2 linked regions of the Homo sapiens genome follow. The main gene of each other region encodes a partner of the protein of the gene in region 2 in a complex. Each region holds a gene or a part of one and is shown on either strand. Other genes may lie near its edges. The genes, in order: NUP93 and NUP62.

Region 1 (3,500 bases), on a different chromosome or scaffold from region 2:
GTCAGCCCCCCGCCTGGCCAGCCGCCCCGTCCGGGAGGGAGGTGGGGGGGTGAGCCCTCCGCCCGGCCAGCCGCCCCGTCTGGGAGGTGAGGGGCGCCTCTGCCCCGCCGCCCCTACTGGGAAGTGAGGAGCCCCTCTGCCCGGCCAGCCGCCCCGTCCGGGAGGGAGGTGGGGGGGGTCGGCCCCCCGCCCGGCCAGCCGCCCCGTCCGGGAGGGAGGTGGGGGGGTCAGCCCCCCGCCTGGCCAGCCGCCCCGTCCGGGAGGGAGGTCGGGGGGTGAGCCCTCCGCCCGGCCAGCCGCCCCGTCTGGGAGGTGAGGGGCGCCTCTGCCCGGCCGCCCCTACTGGGAAGTGAGGAGCCCCTCTGCCCGGCCAGCCGCCCCGTCCGGGAGGGAGGTGGGGGGGTCGGCCCCCCGCCCGGCCAGCCGCCCCGTCCGGGAGGGAGGTGGGGGGGTCAGCCCTCCGCCCGGCCAGCCGCCCCGTCCGGGAGGGAGGTGGGGATGTCGGCCCCCCGCCCGGCCAGCCGCCCCATCCGGGAGGGAGGTGGGGGGGTCAGCCCCCCGCCCGGCCAGCCGCCCCGTCCGGGAGGGAGGTGGGGGGGGGTCAGCCCCCCCGCCCGGCCAGCCGCCCCGTCCGGGAGGTGAGGGGTGCCTCTGCCCGGCCGCCCCTACTGGGAAGTGAGGAGCCCCTCTGCCCGGCCAGCCGCCCCGTCCGGGAGGGAGGTTGGGGGGTCAGCCCCCCGCCCGGCCAGCCGCCCCGTCCGGGAGGGAGGTGGGGGGGGTCAGCCCCCCTGCCCGGCCAGCCGCCCCGTCCGGGAGGTGAGGGGCGCCTCTGCCCGGCCGCCCCTACTGGGAAGTGAGGAGCCCCTCTGCCCGGCCACCACCCCGTCTGGGAGGTGTGCCCAACAGCTCATTGAGAACGGGCCAGGATGACAATGGCGGCTTTGTGGAATAGAAAGGCGGGAAAGGTGGGGAAAAGATTGAGAAATCGGATGGTTGCCGTGTCTGTGTAGAAAGAAGTAGACATGGGAGACTTTTCATTTTGTTCTGCACTAAGAAAAATTCCTCTGCCTTGGGATCCTGTTGATCTGTGACCTTACCCCCAACCCTGTGCTCTCTGAAACATGTGCTGTGTTGTCCACTCAGGATTAAATGGATTAAGGGCGGTGCAAAAAAAAAAAAAAAAGAAATTTAGCATTTAATTTTAAGCAGAAACTCTGCCCTCAAACCTTATTAATCAGACTATGACAGGAGTAAAACACAAGAATGGTGTTCAACATTCTTGTGAATGATTCTTTCTTTTCTCATCCAAGATTGATGAGAAAAACCTCCACCCAAGGTATCAAAAGTTTAATACTGATTCTGTTCTCCTCTCTTTTGAATACATAAACTAGCTAGATGACAATATCATTCCACTTTTTACTATTATCTGTCAGCTGTCAATTACAACAACAACCCCAAAAAAATTAAATCTTGACAGACATCATTGTTTCAGATGCCTCTGGAAGAGAGAGGAGAGGGAAAAAAAAATTGTTGGAAAGTTCTTTACAGCCCTGTGAGACTAAGTAAAAGAGACCTTATCATTATTCAAAAGGTAGAGTTCTGGAGAAAACAAAGACCTAAAATAAATTAACCTAGACAGAAGAAAAAGACTTGGGTGATTTAGTAGCAGTACTGCCCTCAGTGACTCAATGTTTGCAATAAGGAATGGGTAGTATCAGCTTTCCTGATACATAAAATATCACTTGTATTATTTCCTCTTCAATGAGCAAAGAGAAGTAATAACCTGGCATCACAAAGAAAAATAAATTATCCACATAGTAACTTTCTGATAAACTCTTGGCTGTCCAGCAGAAGGCCCAGCTGGGAAGAAAGTGCTGTGGACTACAGCTTGGCTCCATCCCACGCCAGCCCTCTGACCCTGGGGCTGGATCGTCTCTGGATGAGGGGGTTGCTCAGGTGATCTCTAAGGGCCTGCTCACCTTAAAGAATTTACAAATGTGAGATGTTTTAATTCGGTCTTTAAACTTACTTGATGCTTCCTGGGAAACAGCCCCATTTTAGTGGTGATGGAAATTATCTCTACAGAGAACCTTAGGAATGATACTAGTTCTGTCTTACAACTAGCATAAACAGGGGCAGATCACCAAGTCGGCCCCAAAGGGCCTGTGGCTTTGGCTCTGGCTCTGGCTCTTCTCTCTAAACCAATGCTACTCAACTTTGCCCCACAGGGGACATTCAGCAATAGCTAGAGACATTTTTGGTTGTCACAACTTGGGAGGCAGAAGGTGTGCGGATTCTAACAAAAGTCTGGGTCCCTACCATTATAATTTTAAAACCATTGCATTTACAGAATTATCCCACTTGGGCTTTTTATGGCAGTATATTCATACCTTGGTATACCACACACAGCAATGGAAAAGAAACTACAGACTACACAGAACATGGATGAATTTCACAGACATCACAATGAGCTGAAGAAGCCAGATACAAAAAGAAAAAAAAAAAAGCACCGTATGACTCCATTTATATGGATCTTAAAAACAGAAAAAATGAATCTATGGGACTAAAGATCAGAATACTGGTTATCCTTGGGAGTGTAGGGGGAGTGCTGATTGGGAGAAAGCACAGCAGAGCTTTTCGGGTACTAAGGACTGAACTGTATTCTCTCAGAATTCCTGTGTTGAAGCCCTACCCCACAATGTGATGCTATTTGGAGATGGGGTCTTTGGGAAGTAATTAGACTCAGATGAGGTGACGTGGGTGGGGTCTTCAGGATGGGATAAGTGCCCTTAGACACACCAGAAAGCTTGCTTTCCTCCACCTACCTCTCCCCACACATACACATCAAAGAAAGGTCTTGACTACACACTGAGCAGCGAGGAAGAGGGCCCTCACCAGAACCCAACTATGCTGGCATCCTGATCTCGGACTTCCAGCCTCCAAAACTGTGAGGAAATAAATTTCTGTTTAAGCCAGAACAACAGATATTTTGATATTTTATTATGGTGATCTGAGCTGACCAAAGTACCAGAAATGCTTTATATTTCAATATGGACAGTGGTCACATAAGTGAATAAATGTGTAAAAATTCCCTAAGCTGTATACTTAAGGTTGACTCACAGTTTTTTAGAAGGAATAGCAAGAAACAAAGCACTGACTTAGCAAGAAACAACCTAGCATTACCAAGGTGAGAGTTGGGAGACTTTTCTACTTTTCATTTGATTCCCTTGTCAGGGCAAATTCTTTTCCATGAGTATATGTGATCTTACATAATTTTTAATAACTTGTTAATTTTAATATTGCTCTAAATTCCCTACTTCACAGTGTGTGTCTCACCACTGCCCTTGAAGACTCAATGGCAATGACTGTCAAATCCACACCTGCCCCCGTGCACTCAAACTCCAACCGTGAGTTTCCAGGCACCACTGGTGCATCTCCTCTCAAGCACATAACTGTCACACCCACCATGTCTCCAAATGCAGTTATCCACCCCCAACTCC
Region 2 (3,605 bases):
GCTATTGACGCAAAGAGGCTGGGCCCAGTGCTGGTGATGGTGGCTGTGGGTGTGGGAGCAGCTGGCTGTGTGGCACCTGCTGTGGTGGCTGCTGGCGTGGCCGGAGTGAAGGGCAACGTGGCAGGTGCCGTGGGCTGGGCTGAATTCCCTGCTGAGCCAATGTTGAAACCGGAGGGTTGGGCCGTGCTTCCACCAGTGAATGAGAAGCCTCCAGATGTGGTAGCTGGAGCCACAGAGGTGGTGGAGGGGCCAAACACAAAGCCGGTGGGTGCTGTGCCCTGGCTGGAGGTGACGGTGCTCGATATGGCATTAGTGAGGTTGCTGCTGCCCAGCCCAAAGCCGCTGGGGTTTGCCATGGCTGGGGTGGCAGCTGTGTTGCTCAAGTTGAGCTTTGAAGCACCGATCCCCAAAGAAAATCCAGTTCCCCCCGAAGCAAGAGTCGCTGTTCCAAAAGTGAAGCCTGTCGTCTGTGTGGCCGGAGTCTGGGTGGCAAGTGAGAACAGGCCGGTGGAAGGGGTACTTGTGGCTGGTTGGAAGGGAGCCCCAAAATTAAACCCTCCAGTGCCAGAGGTGGAGAAAGAAAACCCTGTAGCAGGTGTGGTTGTTGCCGTCTTTGCAGTGCCAAACGTGAACCCGCCTGTAGGGGCCCCAGTGCCTCCAAAATTAAACCCGCTCATGGCTCCGGACTCTGGTGGCGGCAGCTACTCTGGCTCCCAAAGCAAATCCGTCGGTGTCTGCAGCCTTGGGAAGATTTCTAAAGCAGAGGAAGTGACATTGTCAGATGGCAGTTTTGGAAAGGCAAGCTCAGTGGCATGACTGGGCACAGTCGGTTTGGAGGGTGGTGGGATGGGATAATGATGCATGCTGTGTAACCTAAACTAGGCTCTGCTACATCGAGAAGGATCCAGAAGCACAAAAGCACGCCCCAGGGGTCAGGTACGAGGAGCCGGGGTGCTAGGGACGTGCGTGGCCATGTTCAGCCCAGTGGAAAGCTCCCACTCTGTGGAGGACGAGGCGGGAGAACAGGACCTTGGACCCACCTCAGCCTGAGGAGATCAGATTTGAGGCACTGCCACAAGCGGGACTAGGACACACAAGAACAGCTGTAGGACCTGCTCCCAGCGTGGGACCCAGTGAGGTTCCCTGGCTGACTCTAGCAGGGTGTGAGCGGATCAGCTCTTGCCACCCTGAGGGCCTCTCTGGACCTCAGAGAGAGAGATGGGGCCGGGAACCCAGGCTGGATGGCAGGGTCTGGGTTGCTGAAGGCCCCCCAGGCCCACACCTGCACTCTCTAAGAGCAGGAGAGGACACTGGAACTCCTCCTCCTAACTCAGGGGAGGGTCTGAAACCCATGTGCTCAGAGCACAGATGCCCCTGGCTGCAGTGATTGGCTCAAGGATAAACTGAGACCTGAGCCAGGCAATCGGAGCCTCCCCTGGGGTTTTCTCCAGGCTTGGAAGGCAGCTGCCTCCTTCACCTGTAGGTGTGGTGTGGAGGATTGCACCTGGGCCTCCCTTGGACACCTTCTCAACCATCTGCAGACACTGGGACATCACGGGAGACCATGAGCCCCACCAGAGATGGGTGGGGGTGGGGGTGGGGGAGGGATAAAGAGCACCCCAGAAGACCCATGGGCCACAGTATTTCCATTCAGTTCAAACTGACTTGATTTTGGTAATGTCTAACTGAAAAATCTCCCAGTGGTGCCATCTATCAGCAGGAAGGTCAAAGGTTACCTGGTGAGGAAAGGGTGAGAGGGAGTGCTGAATAGGGGTGGTTTCTTTTTCTTTTGGGAAAGGGTTTTTTTCTGTCATACTAGCTGGAATGCAGTGACATGATCACAACTCACTGCAGCCTCAACCTCCTGGACCCAAGTGATCCTCCCACCTCAGCCTCCCAGAGTAGCTAGGACTACAGGTGCATGCCACCATGCGTGGATAATCTTTTTTATTTTTTGTGGAAATGGGATCTCACTCTGTTGCCCTGGTCTTCAACTCCTGGGCTCAAGCGATCCTCCCTCTTTGTCCTCTCAAAGTGCCAGGACTACAGGCGTGAGCCCTAAAGATGATCAGCAGTATCCTTAGAAGACGGATTTGACTGACTGGAGAAGGGAAGAAAGCTTGTGGTGACACGAGCAGACTGGAGTGATGCGCTTTGGAATCTGAAGATGTGAGAAAGCCAGGAGCCAAGGAAGGCAGAAGCAGCTCTAAAAGCTGGAAATGGAAAGAGGGAGGCCCTGTCTCAAAAAAACAAAAGAATAATCAAAGTCAAGACTGAGAAGCCAAGTGCCTGACCCAGAGAAACACCCACGAGGTCTGTTTCCTCTTCCCTCTCTCCAGGCCAGTTTTTAAATTGCTTGGTGTCTGTCCTCAGGAAATCCCCTTCCAGCTTGAGTAAGAGGCAACCTATCTCACTACCCCCACCCCTTCCACTGCACCCTTCTGCTTCCTCACAGGCCCCTAAGTTTTGTTTCGTCTGCTCCTCCTTCTCCACACAGCCAAGCAAGCCTGGGGAGATGACCCCAGGGCCAGCTGCACACGCTCTGCCTTGTCTAAGCCAGTAGATCTCAATGGGCGTCCATCACTACTGACTGGGAGCATTCAAAATACACAAGGCTGTTAGCTCCACTAAGCCAGTCTCTCCGGGGCTGGGATGCTGTGGCCCTGGCATTTTCATAAAGCTTTCCTGGGGGATTCTGAGAAAGGTCTCTTCAAGAGGCCACGGCAAGTGCCTGAGCCCCCAGGACTGCTGGGGCCTGGCCCGGCCTACATCCATTCCTCCCGTTGTGGGACAGAACAAAAGTCCTCACTGCTGAGCCACCTCAAGCCGGTGTGTTGTTACTGGCAGCTAAAGGCATCTGAGCAGCTACACCTACACATCTCAGTTCTCAAGAACTCAGCTTAAAAAAGCTTTTGCTATTAATAAGTTGTAGCTAAAATTTCCAAGAAGAGCATTTATAAAAAGCTCTTTGCAACTATGAAAAAACTACAAGGAAAACAATCTTCTATGGGGACTTGTCTGGCTTAACAGTTCACCTTTTTTTTTTTTTTTTTTTTGAGACGGGAGTCTCGCTCTGTTGCCCAGGCTGGAGTGGAATGGCATGATCTCGGCTCACTGCAACCTCCGCTTCCCGGGTTCAAGCGATTCTCTCGCCTCAGCTTCCAAGTAGCTGGGATTACAGGCGCATGCCACCACGCCCGGCTAATTTTTGTATTTTTAGTAGAGATGGGGTTTCTCCATGTTGGCCAGGCTGGTCTTGAACTCCTGACCTCAGGTGATCCGCTTGCCTCGGCCTCCCAAAGTGTTGGGATTACAGGCATGAGCCACTGCGCCCGGCCAACAGTTCACCATTTATTAAGTGCCACATTGGTTTCCAATACTCAGGTGCCAGGGATCTATTCACAATGGTGAACCCATACTGATCCAGCCCTGATCCACGCAGTTTAGATATGGCCAGGTGAGGTGGCTCACGCCTGTAATCCCAGCACTTTGGGAGGCTGAGGTGGGGGGATCGCTTGAGCCCAGGAACTCGAGAACAGCCTGGCCAACATAGCGAGATGCTGTCTCTACACAAAAAACACAAAAATGAGTTGGCCGTGGTGGCA

What was found.
Region 1: NUP62 (region 2) and NUP93 share a complex: the UniProt entries of both Homo sapiens proteins name them as parts of the p62 complex.

Annotation. Positions count from the first base shown.
Region 1 is NC_000016.10:56,736,629-56,740,128, reverse strand, and holds part of NUP93 (nuclear pore complex protein Nup93), read right to left. Parts: intron 1-3,500. UniProt on the Homo sapiens protein: Plays a role in the nuclear pore complex (NPC) assembly and/or maintenance. May anchor nucleoporins, but not NUP153 and TPR, to the NPC. During renal development, regulates podocyte migration and proliferation through SMAD4 signaling.
Region 2 is NC_000019.10:49,909,131-49,912,735, forward strand, and holds part of NUP62 (nuclear pore glycoprotein p62), read right to left. Parts: intron 755-3,605; 5' UTR 678-754; coding exon 1-677. UniProt on the Homo sapiens protein: Essential component of the nuclear pore complex. The N-terminal is probably involved in nucleocytoplasmic transport.